2 separate regions of the Homo sapiens genome follow, and region 1 is linked to region 2. Evidence: fine-mapped expression QTL. Tissue or cell type: cerebellar hemisphere. Region 2 holds a variant in brackets; the other region holds the start of a gene. All regions are shown on one strand. Distances are between the middles of the regions.

Region 1 (8,000 bases), 290 kb after region 2:
CCGGGTTCAAGCGATTCTCCTGACTCAGCCTCCCGAGTAGCTGGGATTACAGGCATGCGCCACCACGCCCAGCTAATTTTTGTACTCTTAGTAGAGATGGGGTTTCAACATGTTGGCCAGGCTGGTCTCGAACTCTTGACCTCGTGATCCGCCTGCCTCGGCCTCCCAAAGTGCTGGGATTACAGATGTGAGCCACCATGCCCGGCCCCTCGTTTGCTTTTATAAGCAGAGAAAAATCTCTTCCTCACCCCTCACCCCTGGCTGCCGAGCTCCTCGTCTCAACAACTGACCTGGCTGTCATTGGTTGCCCCAGGGGTGAGACCTGGCAAAGAGGGGCAGGGGAGGGCCACACTTTTATTGGGAAATCAGCCTGCCCCAGAGCACAGGTTCACTTCAGTGTCAGACACGTTTAGTGTCAGATTAATAAAGATGGATATTAAAAACACAACAGGCCAAGCGTGGTGGCTCACACCTGTAACCCCAGCACTTTGGGAGGCTGAGGCGGGCAGATCACCTGAGGTCAGGAGTTCAAGACCAGCCTGGCCAACATGGAGAAACCCCGTCTCTACTAAAAATACAAAATTAGCTGGGTGTGATGGCGCATGCCTGTAATCCCAGTTACTAGGGAGGCTGAGGCAGGAGAATCGCTTGAACCTGGGAGGCTGAGCGGAGATCACGCCATTGCACTCCAGCCTGGGCAACAAGAACGAAACTCGGTCTCAAAAACAACAACAACAACAAAAAACAAACTGCAACTTCTAGACCCTGACAGCTCTCCTCCCCTTAGCCCCATCTCGAGGGAAATTCTGCCTCTGGCCTCAGCCGGGACAGCTCTGAGCCATGGGACTCAGAGATCTCCACACACTGGGCCAAGAACTCAGGGCTAGAATCTTATAGAACCAGGAAAAGGGGACTCTCCCCCTAAAAATGCAAACACGGTTTGTGGGGCCCCAAGCTCTTTTGTGGGGGCGGGGCCAGGGTGTTACCTGGGGAAGCCTGAGCGCACATGGAGCCCGTCCACGTTCTGGCTGACCAGGAAGCGGAGGAGGCCCACGCGCTCCAGCTGCACCAGCGCCATGTGGGTCTGCGTGGGCCGCGCGCTCTCAAAGGTGGTGTCGAACTTGGGGGCCAGACCTCGCTCCTCCATGGTCCAGACTCCGTGGGGACCCCTGAAGGTGGCAGGCCGGGAGAGATGGACGGGGAGAGGGGAACAGAAAAAGAGACAGAGGGAGAATCAGAGAGGTATAGAGAGAAAGTTGGAGAGAGAGAAAATCAGGAGACAGAGAGAGACAGGGAGACAGAGAGAGGGAATCAGAAACAGAAATAGAGGGTGAGTTGCAAGAACAGGGAGAGGGGGATAGAACAAGACACAGACAGAGAGATAAAGAGTTAAAGACAAAGCAAGTCAGAGACAGAATTGGAGAGAGACAGAGAGAGGGAGAGGCAGAGAGAGAGAGATGAATTCACACGAAGGCAAAAATGACTTATTCTATTCAACCAACACTGCTGCTGCAATGAGCCCGACGATGCTCACATGGGCCCAAGCCCTGCCCTCCAGAAGCCCTTGATCTTGGGGGAGACAGGTGGACACAGATCCTCTGGCCCCAAGAGTCAAGCCTGGATCAGAGGAGGTACCTGGGCCTGGGGAAGCCCCGTGGAGGTGGGGGCCCTGGGGCACGTGGAAGGGCTTCCTGGAGGAGGCTAAGCAGTTTCTTGAAGGGTGAGAGGGAAGATCAGACAGAAGGGGTAAACAAAGGCCTGGGTGCTGGGAAGAGCCCATGAGTTTAGGAGAAAATGCAAGTGTTTTGGGGGCTGCAGCAGGAGCAGGAGGGGCTGAAGTTGGAGAGGTGATTCAGGGCTGGGGCAGGAAGGGCTTCAGCTTCCAGCACAAGGTATTCAGAACTCTACACTGCCTGGCAATGGGGAGCCACAGCAGGTTATGGAAGAGGAGAAGGAGGAGAAATTCACGCCTTGGCTTTTTTTTTTTTTTTTTTTTTTTTTTTTTGAGATGGAGTCTGGCTCTGTTGCCCAGGCTGGAGTACAATGGCATGATCCTGGCTGACTGCAACCTCTGCCTCCCGGGTTCAAGCGATTCTCCCACCTCGGCCTTCCAAGTAGCTGCGATTACAGGTGCCTGCCACCACACCTGGCTACGCTTGCAAATATGAAAGACTACATTTCCCAGCAACCCTTGCAGCCAGGTGTGATCAGGTGACCGTGTTCTGGCCAATGAGGTGAGTGGAATGCTGGTTGTGACAAGGGACACATCTTTTTGTTTTGTTTTTAGACGGAGCCTCACTCTGTCGCCCAGGCTGGAGTGCAGTGGTGCAATCTCGGCTCACTGCCTCCACCTCCCAGGTTCAAGCAATTCTCCTGCCTCAGCCTCCCGAGTAGCTGGGACTACAGATGTGTGCCACCACAACTGGCTAATTTTTGTATTTTTAGTAGAGACAGGGATTCACCATATTGGCCAGGCTGGTCTGGAATTCTTGACCTTGTGATCCACCATGCCCAGCCAAGGGACACATCTTAAAGGGAGTACCCAGGACACATCCAGGAGGAAAGCAGATGGATGTGTTCTCATTCCCAGATGTGTGTGGCTCGCAGGGAAGCCTCTGGCAGCCTGGTAGGCCTTGCCTCGACTTCCCCTGCACAATCACAGACCTGAAGTCGGGGATGCCAGAGGCAGTGCTGATGCCGGCACCCGTGTGGAACACCACACTGGAAGACTGCCAGACCAGCCTCGCCAGTTCCCACACCTTCCGCTCCAGCTCCTCCGGGGGGTCGAAGATCTGTGGGGGGAGAGAGCAGACGGAGGGGTCAAAACAGTTCCCCCAAGTGGCAAGGCCACGCACGAGCCACAGACTGAGCTGTCCCTGTCTTGCCTGAGGGAGGAAAATGGATTGGAAAAGGCAGCTTGTCCTCATGCCCCTCCTCTTCCTACAACCTTCCATGCCTCCCACCTGCCTTGTCAAAGCCCTAGCCCTTCCCACGGCCCACCAGGCCCTGCACTACCTCCCTTGCCCCCTCCCTGCCCTCTTCTCCTCCCTCTCCCTGCCTCACTCTGCTCCAGCCACACAGGTCTCCTCCTTGTTCCTCTATCACACCAGGCACAGTCCCGCCTCAGGGCCACACCCTTTAATGCTCTTCCCCCAGATACCCACATGGCTCCCTCCCTCACCTCCTGTAACTTGTGGCTTAGATGTCACTTCAGTGACAGTGATGCCTCCCTTGGCCAACTGGTTTCCATGCAACCCCTAGTCAGTCTCCCTTACTAGAAGGAGGGGTTTTTAATCTGTGTTGCTCCTGGCTGTGGCCTTAGTACCTAGAAAGTGCCTGAGCTACAGTAAGTGCTCTATAAATGTTGGTGGAATAAAGTGACTAACAGGCCGGGTATGGTGGCTCACGCCTATAATCCCAGCACTTTGGGAAGCCAAGGTGGGTGGATCACTTGAGATCAAGAGTTCAAGAGCAGACTGGCCAACATGGTGAAACCCCGCCTCTACTAAAAATACAAAAATTAGCCAGGCGTGGTGGCAGGTGCCTGTAGTCTCATCTACTCTACTCAGGAGGCTGAGGCAGGAGAATCGCTTGAACCTAGGAGGCGGAGGTTGCAGTGAGCCGAGATCGCGCCACTGCACTCCAGCCTGGGCGACAGAGAAACTCCATCTCAAAAATATAATAATAATAATAATAAAGTGACTAACAGCAGCAGTGAAGAGTGGGGCTTCTGGACGGGCGCACACCATCAGCGCTCATTAAATGCATGAGTCAGAATGCATGGGCCAGCCTTATGGAATGGGGCCATCTTCACCTCGTTTGCAGAAAGTTTGGAGATGGAGACCCAAAAGGGAAGTGACTTCCCCAAAGTCCCACAGTGCGTGGAGGGGGCAGCCGATCCCTCCACTTCCCCTCTGAGTGGCTGGAGGGATCTTTCTGGCACATTCTGTCCAGTCCCCTCGCCAGGGCAAAACCCTTCCCCATCACCCTCAGGATAAAGTGCCAACTCCCCAGCCTGGCATTTGAGCCCCGTCCTGGCCCGGCTCTGGAAACCTCCCAGGCCTAATCGTTCTCCAGGTGTGTTTATTCCCACCTCCCTTTGCGCCTGTCGTCCCCTCTTCCTGGAACTACATCCCCTCTCTCCCCGATCAGCCCCGACAGGGTGACCACAGAGTTGGGCGTGTTGGCGTCCCCCGGCGCGCAGGGGCGTCACTTCCCGCCCCTTCCTCACTGGGAAGTCCCTCCCATTGTCTAGCCTCAGTGCCCCCTGATATTCCCACAATGCCCCCCTGCCATCCGGCCGCTCCCAGCCCGCGGCCCTGGGGCGCGATGCTCGGGACCCTCAGACGCGCTCACCTCCGGGAGGCCGCACTTGCCCTTGTCCGCGTACGGCGACAGCCCCGCCGCGTAATTCACCGACATCCTCGACTGCCCCACGGGAACAATAAAGTTTCCCTTGTTGAGGCCGCTTCCGCCGGAAGCGGGGCGGGGCGGGGAAGAAGGAGGAACCGCGTTCCAGTCCTGCGCACCCGGCCTCCCACGGCAAGGCGCATGCGCCTCTTGCTGACGCCGCAGGCGACATGTTATCTGCTGTCAGAAGGAAGCCTGCCTCTTTGCATGCAGGTGTTTGCGGGGCTTGGGAAGGGGCTCCCCGATGACCCGGGCGGGAAATTGGGGCGGCCGCCTACGTGAGAGTTCTCCAGTCACCTCTAAAATGCGGGACACAGGCTATCCATGTCCCCACAACCCCTTTTACGGATTAGTAAATTCCGTAAGGACAGAGCCGGACAGCAGGGACCCCAGCCTAAGGGTTTTGAATGCCACGCAGAGTTACCTGAATATCTCATTTGTGTGTGTGTGTGTGTGTGTGTGTGTGTGTGTGACGGAGCCTCGCTCTGTTGCCCAGGCTGGAGTGCAGTGGCGCAATCTCGGTTCACTGCAACCTCCGCCTCTTGGGTTCAAGCGATTCTCCTGCCTCAGCCTCCCTAGTAGCTGGGATTACAGGCGCCCGCCACCACACCCAGCAAATTTTTGTATTTTTTAGTAGAGACGGGGTTTCTCCATGTTGGTCAGGCTGGTCCCGAACTCCTGACCTCAGGTGATCTGACCGCCTCGGCCTCCCAAAGTGCTGGGATTACAGGCGTGAGCCACTGCGTCCGGCCAAGTTATCTGAGTATCATCCAACTGGAGGTTCTGCATTCTGCAGGACAGGTCCTGCTCAAGGTCAATGGGGCTGGTGGCCTGGAGGACTCATTTAAGAATCATGTGTTGAGTACCTACTTTGTACTGGGCACACTGGAGAGCAAAGGTGGTACCATCTATGCCCTGGTGGCTGCGGGTGGACACAAACATGTGACCAGGTAATGGTGACATGGTGTGGTTGGGGTGCAATGGGTGATGCAGAGGGCACAGGGCAGTGAGGGGGCTCACAGGAGGCACCTGACCCAGGCTGGGGGCATCCGGGAGGGCTTCCTGGAGGAGGGGATGTTGCAGCAAAGATCTAAAAAGTGAGTGAGCCGGGCGCAGTGGCTCACACCTGTAATCCCAGCACTTTGGGAGGCCAAGGCAGGTGGATCACCTGAGATTGGGAGTTCGAGACCACCCTGACCAACATGGAGAAACCCCGTCTCTACTAAAAATACAAAATTAGCTGGGTGTGGTGGCCTGTAATCGCAGCTGCTCGGGAGGCTGAGGCAGGAGAATTGCTTGAACCCAGGAGGCGGAGATTGCGGTGAGCCGGAGATCGCGCCATTGCACTCCAGCCTGGGCAACAAGCATGAAACTCCGTCTCAAAAATAAATAAATAAATAAATAAAGAGTGCATGAGTCAGGTAGAGCCGGTTGGGGTGACATGAAGTACAGAAAGAATGTTCCTGGTGGGGGGAACAGCAAGTGCAAAGGCTGAGAAAGAGGAAGAGCATGGCTCCTTCCAGAAACTGAAATCAGTCCAGTGATGATAGGGAAGATCGTGGGTGTCTTCCCGCCAGAGCCAGTTGGCCAACAGGCAGTCCGCTGCCAGCCTGTCTCCTCCCTCGGCTCATCCCCGGCCCCCTGGGGCGGCCGCCTGCTCAGAGCCGATCAGGTGTCAGAGTGGAGCGGCTGGAGCTGCTCGTGGCCCAGCTGGGAGTGGGTAACCGGAGCCGGCAGTGGGCACTGTGGCCGGGAGCTCGGGGCACTGGAGCTGCAGGAGGTAGGGGAGGAAGGAGGTGGGAGAGGCCCAGGACGGAGGATCCCCTTATGGCCCCAGGCCCCTGAGCCCTTGTATGTGGGAGAAAGAAGCCGTGCTGAGTCCTAGCCAGGCTGCGGAGCTACCCAGGTACCCTGACACACACATGCACTCGTTCACCCACGCACTTCCCACTTGCCGGCCTGTGCCCTGCCTAGCTTCCTCCAAGGCAGGTGCTCAACATCCCACCCGGCCATCAGGCCCTTCTTATTTACCATCACCTCTTCCAGCAAGCAGCTTCCTAAATTTAGCAGGCGTTTCTCCCTCCCCCAAGCCCACGGATTGTCTTCTCCCAAGCAGCCTGTGAACTCCTCTGTTGGGTGTCTTATTACCCCCTGCTTTGGGTGTGATTGAATCCTCCAGTCAGAGGTAGAAGAAAAAAGGGTAGGTAGTGAGTGAATGGGCACCGGTGGAGGGGTAGATGAATGGATGGGTGGGTGGATGGATGGGGGGCGAATAGGTGGATTGGTGGTTTGGTAGATGGGTGAATGGGTAGATGTATGGATGGATGGGTGGATGGATGAATGGGTGGGTGATTGGGCAAATGGATGGAGGGATGGATAAGTGGATGGATGGATGGATGGAAGGATCCATGGATGGACTGGTGGGTGGGTGGATGGATGCACTGGTGGGTGGGTGGGTGGATGGATGGATTGGTGGTTGGGTGGGTGGATGGAGGGATGGATAAGTGGATGGATGAGTGGATGGGTGGGTGGGTGGATGGGTGGATGGGTGTGTGATTGGGTGGGCAGATGGGTGGATGGATGGATGCTTGGGCAGATGGATGGATGGGTGGTTGGGTGGATGGATGAAGGGATGGATAAGTGGATGGATGGGTGGATGAGTGGATGGATGAATGGTGGGAGTTGGTAGGTGTTTGGGTGGGTGGATGGATGTGTGGGTGAAATCTGATTAAAGGGTGATGAAGAACCATGAGAACATGAATTGGGTGGGTGGGTTTGTGGGTGGTGGCCAGTGGGTGGTTATACAGTGCTTAGGTGGGAGGATGGATGTCCAGGTGAGTGCATAGGTGGTAAATGCGTGGAAGGGTGGCTTGGAGAATTCACGAGTAGATAGGTGGACAGGTAGAGGCCATGCCAACCCCTACTCCTTGGTAAGAGGCAAATACAGATTCTCCATCACAGAAATCCCTTTCACACATAGGGCCTCACAGTCACACCCCTCAAAAAACACACCCCCTCAAGATAGGCCTGCCTGACCTCCGTGCCTGCCCATGCGGAACGTAGAACAGGCCCAGGTGGACAGAAGTGCACGTGTGCACACGCCCCACACTCAACGTCACACACATGCATGCAGCCATTGCCCCAGACCTCCACCCACTATGGGTGAATTGCTGTCACATGGAGGTTCCCTCTGACTATGTAGCAAACATGCCTCTGTGCTGAGAGCCGTCAGCCCTGGCTTCAGTCCCCAGGGAGCCCCTGACTGTTGAAAAGGACAGAATCAGCCCAGACCCTTCCAGCCCATGGAGCCAGGGGTGAGGCAGAGGCAGAGACCCAGCCAGGGTAGGCGGGAACCCAATTTGGGGAGTTAGATCTCTGCTTGGGAACAAGAGGCAAAGCTGATAAGAGCAAGGGATTTTGGAACTGGGCTTTGAAGGATGAGTAGGAGTTCAGAGAAGAAAAAAGAAACCATTCTAGGCAGAAATAACTGCACAGGTAAAAGTTAGGAGACCAGAAAAGGCTTGATCTGTTTGGACCGCAGGAAATACCAGTGAGATGCATTTATGAAGCCCCTCATGTTTGGCCAGGCT
Region 2 (8,255 bases):
GTGCTGGAATTCCAGGCATGCACCACTGCACCCAGCCCCTAGACGCTTTAAAAAGTGGATCTAGTGGCCCGGCAGGGTGGCTCACACCTGTAATCCCAGCACTTTGGGAGGCAGGTGGATCATGAGGTCAGGAGTTCGAGACCAGCCTGGCCAATATAGTGAAACCCCATCTCTACTAAAAATACAAAAATTAGCTGGACGTGGTGGCACGCGCCTGTAGTCCAAGCTACTCAAGAGGTGGAGGTTGCAGTGAGCCGAGATCGCACCACTGCACTCTAGCCTGGGCGACAGAGCGAGACTCTGTCTCAAAAAAAAAATGACAACAAAAAAAGTGGATCTAGCTACTCGGAAGCTGTTGAGAGACAGACAGAGGTAATGGAAGGACAGAGTGTACAATACTCTATAATGACTGCCGGACACAGGCCTGAAATCCTTTCGCAAACACGGGAATGCACACAGAAATGACTATTGCCTTTAAGACAAGGTTTCTCCACCTTGGATCTATGGATATTTGGGACCCAGTCATTCTTGGTCATGGGCGGCCATCCTGGGCACTGTAAGGTGCTGAGCAGCACCCCTGGCCTGCCCAGGGGGCACTCCTTCCCCTCAGTTGTGACAAAAGTGCCTCTAGACAATGCCAAGTGTCCCCTTGCAGCAGGGGAGGCAGAATTGTCCACAGGTGCAAAGCACTGGTTTCAAAGCCCAAAACAGATGGGGTTGGTTGAGTCATAAGATGCTGGTATGTTATGTCCAAAAGGTATCTTAGAGGTCATCTCTAATTCAACTCTTTTGTTTACAGAAAGGGAAACTGAGACCCAGAGAGGGAGATGGTCTGAGAGTCTGCCATGCCCCAGAGCAGACCACAACTCAGTCTCACCTGGCAGCTCTGATCCTGGCCCCCACCCAGACTGCTCCCCCCTGCCCTGCCCCTGCCCCTGCCCCCAGTGAGCTCCTCAGAACAAGAAAAACAAAACTGGTGTGGGGGGTGGGGCGGCACAGTGGCTCACACCTGTAATCCCAGCGCTCTGGGAGGCTGAGGCAAGAGGATCACCTGAGCCCGAAAGTTCAAGACCAGCCTGGGTGACATACCAAGATCAGAGAAATTAGCCAGGCATGATGGCACACACTCGTGGTCCCAGATACTTGGGAGGCTGAGGCAGGAGGATCGCTTGAGCCCAGGAGTTGGAGGCTGTAGTGAGCTGGGATCACACCACTGCACTCCAGCCTGGGCGACAGAGCAAGACCCCGTCTCTAAATAAATAAATAAATAAATAAAGTGGCATTTTGTGGTAGTAAAGATGAGGGTCTCCTTTCTAACCCCAGTCTCTTTCCACACTGCCTTAGTGAGCCCTGGAGTCAGAAAGTCACTAGGACTTGCTTGAGGGAGGACAGAGAGGCAGGACAGGTGGCCTGGTACATATGGCAGATAGCGATGGGTTAGAGCCTACTGGATTCTCTTTGAACTTGGCATTCCCAGCACGGAAGCTGAAGTATATCAGCCATTCACACTTTAGTATGAATGACTGTTTGGATTTCTTGCTTTCTAGTTGAGGTCCAAGGCACAAGAGGGAGGGTAAGTCTATCTGGGTCATGGCTCACCCTGGAGAAGGTAGATTTCGAAGTTTCCAAGGGAGCAGGACTTGTATCTGAAGGCTCAGCCTCTCGCCCACGTTCAAACTCTGAACCCCACTGTGCATCCTAAGCTCTCTGTGCCTCTGTTTTCTCATCTGTAAAACAGGGGAACCTCATGGGGCTCGGTGATGGTTCAATAAGAAGTGCTGGCCGGGCACAGTGGTTTACCCTTGTAATCTCAGCGCTTAGAGAGGCCGAGGCAGGAGGATTGCTTGAGCCCAAGAGTTTGAGACCACCCTGGCCAACATAGCAAGACCCAATCTCTTAAAAAAAGATTTTAAAAAATTACCCAGGCATGATGGTACACACCTGTGGTCACAGCTACTGGTGGGGGGCTGAGGCAGGAGGATTGCTTAAGCCCAGGAGTTCAAGGCTGCCATGAGCCATGATTGTGCCCCTGCACTCCAGCCCAGGCAACAGAGCAAGATCATGTTTTTTTTTTTAAAAAAAAAAAAAAAAAAAAAAAAAACAGCCAAGCTCAGTGGCTCACCCCTGTAATCCCAGCACTTTGGGAGGCTGAGGCGGGTAGACCGCTTGAGCTCAGGAGTTTGAGACCAGCCTGGCCAACACAGTGAAACCCCGTCTCTATTAAAAATACAAAAATTAGCCGGGTGTGATGGCTCAAGCCTGTAATCCCAGCACTTTGGGAGGCCAAGGCAGGAGGATCACCTGAGGTCAGGAGTTCGAGACCAGCCTGGCCAACATGGCGAAACCCTGTCTCTACTAAAAATACAAGAATTAACCAGGCGTGGTGATGGGTGCCTGTAACCCCAGCTACTTGGGAGGCTGAGGCGGGAGAATCGCTTGAGCCTGGAAGGTGGATGTTGCAGTGAGCTGAGATGGCACCATTGCACTACAGCCTGGGCAACAGAGCAAGACTCCGTCTCAAAAAAGAAGAAGAAGAAGGAGAAGGAGAGAGGAGAGGAGAAAGGAGAGAGGGGGAGGGGAAGGGGGAGGGGGAGACGGAGGGGGAGTGGGAGGGGGAAGAGCTGCATGGGGTAGACGATTGTCATTAGGACTATTGTCCAGTAAAACCCATTCCTCTGCGGCTTCCTTTCAGGGGTCATCCCTGCTTCAAGCCAGTGCCTCTTCCCAGCTCCCATGGGGACCACCGAAGCCACGCTCCGGATGGAAAACGTGGACGTGAAGGAGGAATGGCAGGACGAAGATCTTCCCAGGTAGGACTTCCACATCCCTGAGTCAACCGTTGGGGGAGCAGGTGTCTCTCCCAGGTGGGACACAGGAGCGGCCCGGGTCTCTCTCTAAGTGGGAACCGCCCGGGGCTGGCCTGGTTCCATCTCCGCGTCCTCCTCTCCCGCACACTCTGGGAGGCCTGAGGCCCTGTGTGCGAGTCTTCTCTGTGGCCTCACAGTGGGGTAGTCCTGGCCAGGCACATAATGGGTATTTGCTCAATGATTTAAGATTCATTTCTGTCTTCCCTGCCCCAAAGCTCCAAAGGACCCCCCACCCCTACACCATTTTAAGAGTTCTTAACATTCTGGCTGGGCGCGGCGGTTCACGCCTGTAATCCCAGCACTTTGGGAGGCCGAGGTGGGCGGATCACTTGAGGTCAGGAGTTCGAGACCAGCCTGGCCAACATGGCAAAACCGCGTCTCTACTAAAACTACAAAAATTAGCTGGGCATGCCGGGCGCAGTGACTCATGCCTGTAATCCCAGCACTTTGGGAGGCCGAGGCGGGCGGATCATGAGGTCAGCAGATGGAAACTATCCTGGCTAACATGGTGAAACTCCATCTCTACTAAAAATACAAAAATTAGCCGGGTGTGTGGCAGGCGCCTGTAGTCCCAGCTACTCGGGAGGCTGAGGCAGGAGAATGGCGTGAACCCAGGAGGCGGAGCTTGCAGTGAGCCGAGATCGCGCCACTGCACTCCAGCCTGGGCGACAGGTGAGACTCCATCTCAAAAGAAAAAAAAAAAAATTAGCTGGGTATGGTGTCATGCGCCTATAATTCCAGCTACTCGGGAGGCTGAGGCACCATGGTGATTTATTAGCAGCCTTTAGGAGACACTTACCTCCCCTAACATGCTGAACTTTTTTTTTTTTTTTTTTGAGTCTCACTCTGTCCCACAGGCTGGAGTGCAGTGGCACGATCTCAGGTCACTGCAACCTCCAGGTCCTGGGTTCCAGTGATTCTCCTTCCTCATGCCCCCGAGTAGCTTGGATTACAGGCACCCGCCACCACATCTGGCTGATTTTTCTATTTTTAGTAGAGACCGGATTTCACCATGTTGGCCAGGCCAGTCTCGAACTCCGAAAGTGCTTGGATTCCAGGCAAGAGCCACCGCGCCCGGCCCCTACGCTGAACATTTTGCAGGGACATCTTGTCTACACTCTGTCTCCCCACCACACGGAGCGCCACAAGAGCAGGGGTCTTTGTTTAGCTCACTGCTGTATCCCAACCTAAGGATAGTGCCTGGCATACAGTCGGCGCTTAACAAATATTGGGTGACAGGTGCTGATCACTGGTCAGAATAAGAAATCACAGGGGCTGGGCACGGTGGCTCACGCCTATGATCCCAGCACTTACAGAGGCTCAGGCTGGGGGGATTGATAGAGCTCAAGAGTTCGAAACCAGCCTGGGCAAGATAGTGAGACCCCATTTCTACCAAAAAAAAAAAAATTAGCTGGGCATGGTGGTGTGCACCTGCAGTCTTAGCTACTTGGCAGGCTGAGACAGGAGGATCCCTTGAGCCCAGAAGGCAGAGGTTGCAGCGAGCCATGATTGCAGCCCTGCACTCCAGTCTGGGTGACAGAGCGAGACTCTGTCTCTATTTTATTTTATTTTTTTTATTTTATTTATTTATTTATTTATTTTTGAGACAGAGTGTCGCT[T/C]TGTCGCCCAGGCTGGAGTGCAGTGGCGCGATCTTGGCTCACTGCAAGCTCCGCCTCCCGGGTTCACGCCATTCTCCTGCCTCAGCCTCCCGAGTAGCTGGGACTACGGGCACCCGCCACCACGCCCGGCTAATTTTTTGTATTTTTAGTAGAGACGGGGTTTCACCATGTTAGCCAGGATGGTCTCGATCGTCTGACCTCGTGATCCGCCCACCTCGGCCTCCCAAAGTGCTGGGATTACAGGCGTGAGCCATCGCGCCCTACCACCTGTCTCTATTTAAAAAGAGAGGAAAAAAAAAAAAAAGGCCGGTCGCTGTGGCTCAGGTGTGTGTAATCCCAGCACTTTGGGAGGCCAAGGTGGGCAGATCACAAGGTCAGGAATTTGAGACCAGCCTGGCCGACATAGTGAAACCCTGTCTCTACTAAAAATAAAAATTAAAAAAAATTAGCTGGGCATGGTGGTGCACGCCTGTAATCCCCAGTACTCGGGAGGCTGAGGCAGGAGAATCACTTGAACCCGGGAGGCAGAGGTTGCAGTGAGCCGAGATGTGCCACCGCACTCCAGCCCGGGTGACAGTGTGAGACTCCGTCTCAAAAAAAAAAAAATACTACATGGAAAGGAAGCTGTGCGAATTTGCTGTTGAGACGTGTGACTCTGATTTGCTGGCTAAAGATAGCTGCTCATCCCTCTTCCCTTTCAGAACCAGGAATTCATCCATCCCCCAAACACAATGCCCAAGGGTCAGTTATAGAAACTATTGGGTGAGGTTCAGTCAAAAAGACCAGGTGTGTTCCGCCTGAAAAAGAGAATTGGAAAAGAATCTCCAGGCCGCGCACAGTGGCTCACGTCTGCAGTCCCAACAGTTTGGGAGGCCGAGGCGGGCAAATCACTTGAGGTCAGGAGTTCGAGGCCAGCCTGGACAACATGGTGAAACCCCGTCTCTACTAAAAATACAAAAATTAGTCGGGCGTGGTGGTGGGCACCTGTAATCCCAGCTACTCAGGAGGCTGAGGCAGGAAAACTGCTGGAACTCGGGAGGCGAAGGTTGCAGTGAGCCGAGATCGCGCCACTGGACTCCAGCCCGGGCAGTAGAGTGAGTGAGAGTGTCTCAAAAAAACAGAATCTCCAGTTCCAGGAAAATTTCAATCTGAGAGGGTTCCGGAGGGCAGAACGAGGCCAAAAGAACGAACTTAAAAGAGAATGGGGTTTGAAGGAGATACAGAAGAATGCCTTGAAGTAATCGGTCTCCTTCAAAATGAGTCAGGCTGGTGTGGGAGGCCGAGAGCTTCCTTCCCATTCATGTCCAGGCAGAAGGAGGACTGTTGAAGACGGCATCTTGATATTCAAGAACTTCAGCCCTCTCCTGAATCCAGTCATTGCCAGGCCTCTAAGGCCCATGCACCTGTCTGTGTTTCTTTGCAGCAGGAGGTCCCTGTTCTCAGAATAGCCGAGAATCAGAGAATCACGGCTGGGAGCGGAGGCTGATGTCTGTAATCCCAGCTCTTTGGGAGGCCAAGGCGGGAGGATCGCTTGAGCCCAGGAGTTTGAGATTAGCCTGGGCAACATAGCAAGACCTCGTCTCTTAAAAAAACAAAAAACAAACAAAAACTGGCTGGGCCTAGTGGCTCACACCTATAATCCTAGCACTTTGGGAAGCCAAGGCTGGCAGATCACCTGAGGTCAGGAGTTTGAGACCAGCCTGACCAACATGGAGAAACCCCGTCTCTACTAAAAATACAAAATTAGCCGGGCGTGGTGGCCCATGCCTGTAATACCAGCTACTCGGGAAGCTGAGGAAGGAGAATCGCTTGAACGCGGGAGGCGGAGGTTGCAGTGAGCCAAGATCGCACCACTGAACTCCAGCCTGGGCGACAGAGTGAGACTCCGTCTCAAAATAAATAAATAAAAATAAAAAATAAAAAAAAATTAGTCAGGTATGCTGGTGTGCACCTGTAGTTTCAGCTACTCAGGAGGCTGAGGCAGGAGGATTGTTTGGACTTGGGACATCGCAGCAGTGAGCTATGATCACACCACCGCACTCCAGCCTGGACAACAGAGCAAGACTGCATATCTAAGAAAAATAATAATAATTTTAAAATAATGTCATTTCAAGCAGCACAGCATAAACAAAGGCGCATAAGCTTTGGAATCGGACGCCCATGGTTCAAATCCCAATTCCCCAGCAGGTTTGCTCTGCCACCTGGGCTACCTCTTTGGGCATCTCAGTGCCTCTGTTTTCTGATCTGTAAAATAGGACAATAATCTCTCGCGCACCAGGTGGTCATGAAATTTTGATAAAACAGCCGAGATGGGCTGTGCAAATGGCGAAGGCAGCACAAATAAATAATCATCTCCAGCGTTATTACTATTATTAGCTTAGCTCCCTTTCCCCCTACTGATTTTTTTTTATTTCTTTACTTTTCTTTTCTTTTTTTTTTTTTGAGACAGAGTCTCGCTCTGTCACCCAGGCTGGGGTGCAGTGGCGCCATCTCAGCTCACTGCAACCTCCACCTCCTGGGTTCAAGTGATTCTCCTGCTTCAGCCTCCCAAGTAGCTGGATTACAGGCATCTGCCACCACGCCCAGCTCATCTTTGTATTTTTAGTAGAGACGAGGTTTCACCGTGTTGGCCAGGCTGGTCTCGAACTCTCAACCTCAGGTGATCTGCCCACCTCCCAAAGTGCTAGGATTACAGGTGTGAGCCATTGGGCCCAGCTCCACCTATAATTTTTTTTTTTTTTTTTTTTTTTTTTTTTTTTGCAGACAAAGTCTCACTCTGTCACCTAAGCTGGAGTGCAGTGGCGCGAGTTCGGCTCACTGCAACCTCCACCTCCCGGGTTCAAGCAATTCTCCCACCTCAGCCTCCCGAGTAGCTGGGATTACAGGCACACACCACCACACCCAGCTAATTTTTGTATTTTTGGTAGAGACGGGGTTTCACCATGTTGGCCAGGCTGGTCTCGAACTCCCAACCTCAAGTGATCCGCCTACCTCGGTCTCCCAAAGTGCTGGGATTACAGGCGCAAGCCACCACACCCGGCCTCCACCGATAATTTTAAAAGCTCTCATCTCACCCAAGCCTTCTTGAGACAAAAACCAAGGCCGAGCGCACCTGCAAATGCAAGCTGGAGGCCCTTTCTGGAAGGCGCGAGGCCAGCGGGAGCGGGAGGAGGGTGTGTTTCTGGTGGATTTCTTACAGCTGCAAGGCTTCTCGCCCACCCGCTGCAGCAGCTTTGTGTTTGCAGGACAGTGGCCTCGCTGTGCCAGCCTGGCCCCCACGAGCTACGCCTTTGCCAACAGGACACTTCCTCCACGAGGCTTCTGTCTTCCTCGTCTCTGGAAGAACTGAGTCGGCTCCTCGGTGCAGGTCCAGCTGCGGCCACACATAACCACCTCTGTCTGCCGCAAAACAGCTCACAATTCTGTTTCTTCCAGCCCAGCCATCCCCTCCCCTGGGGACTGCAGAAGTGGTCTTTGTACTGCCCTTAAGGGTGTCAGACAGAGCCCTGCATGGCCTCTGCCCTTCTAGCACTTTTTTTTTTTTTTTTGGAGACAGAGTCTCAGTGTATCACCCAGGCTGGAGTGCAGTGGTGCAACCTCAGCTCACTGCAACCTCCACTTCCTGGTTTCGAGCAATTCTCTTGCCTCAGCCTCCCAAGTAGCTGGGATTACAGGTACGCACCACCATGCCTGGCTCATTTTTGTATTTTCGTTAGAGACAGGGTTTCACCATGTTGGCCAGGCTGGTCTCGAACTCCTAACCTCAAGT

Evidence for each region. PIP is the estimated chance that this variant, and not a neighbour inherited with it, causes the effect.
Region 1: ANKRD24 starts here. The variant in region 2 is fine-mapped to the expression of ANKRD24 in cerebellar hemisphere (GTEx, PIP 0.95).

The regions. Positions count from the first base shown.
Region 1 is chr19:4,178,118-4,186,117 of GRCh38, forward strand. ANKRD24 (ankyrin repeat domain 24) reads left to right here and starts at 4,572. Exons shown (of 22, transcript NM_001393985.1): 1 at 4,572-4,623. It overlaps SIRT6 (sirtuin 6), which reads right to left and starts at 4,446. Exons shown (of 8, transcript NM_016539.4): 1 at 4,357-4,446; 2 at 2,665-2,792; 3 at 987-1,169. The coding sequence starts at 4,422. RefSeq lists enhancers at 4,420-4,509, 4,580-4,629.
Region 2 is chr19:3,883,035-3,891,289 of GRCh38, forward strand. ATCAY (ATCAY kinesin light chain interacting caytaxin) reads left to right here. Exons shown (of 13, transcript NM_033064.5): 2 at 2,693-2,810. The coding sequence starts at 2,734. Among named protein-coding and RNA genes, the nearest start is that of ATCAY, 6.5 kb to the left of the region's middle. The variant T/C (reference allele first, on the strand shown) is at 4,487.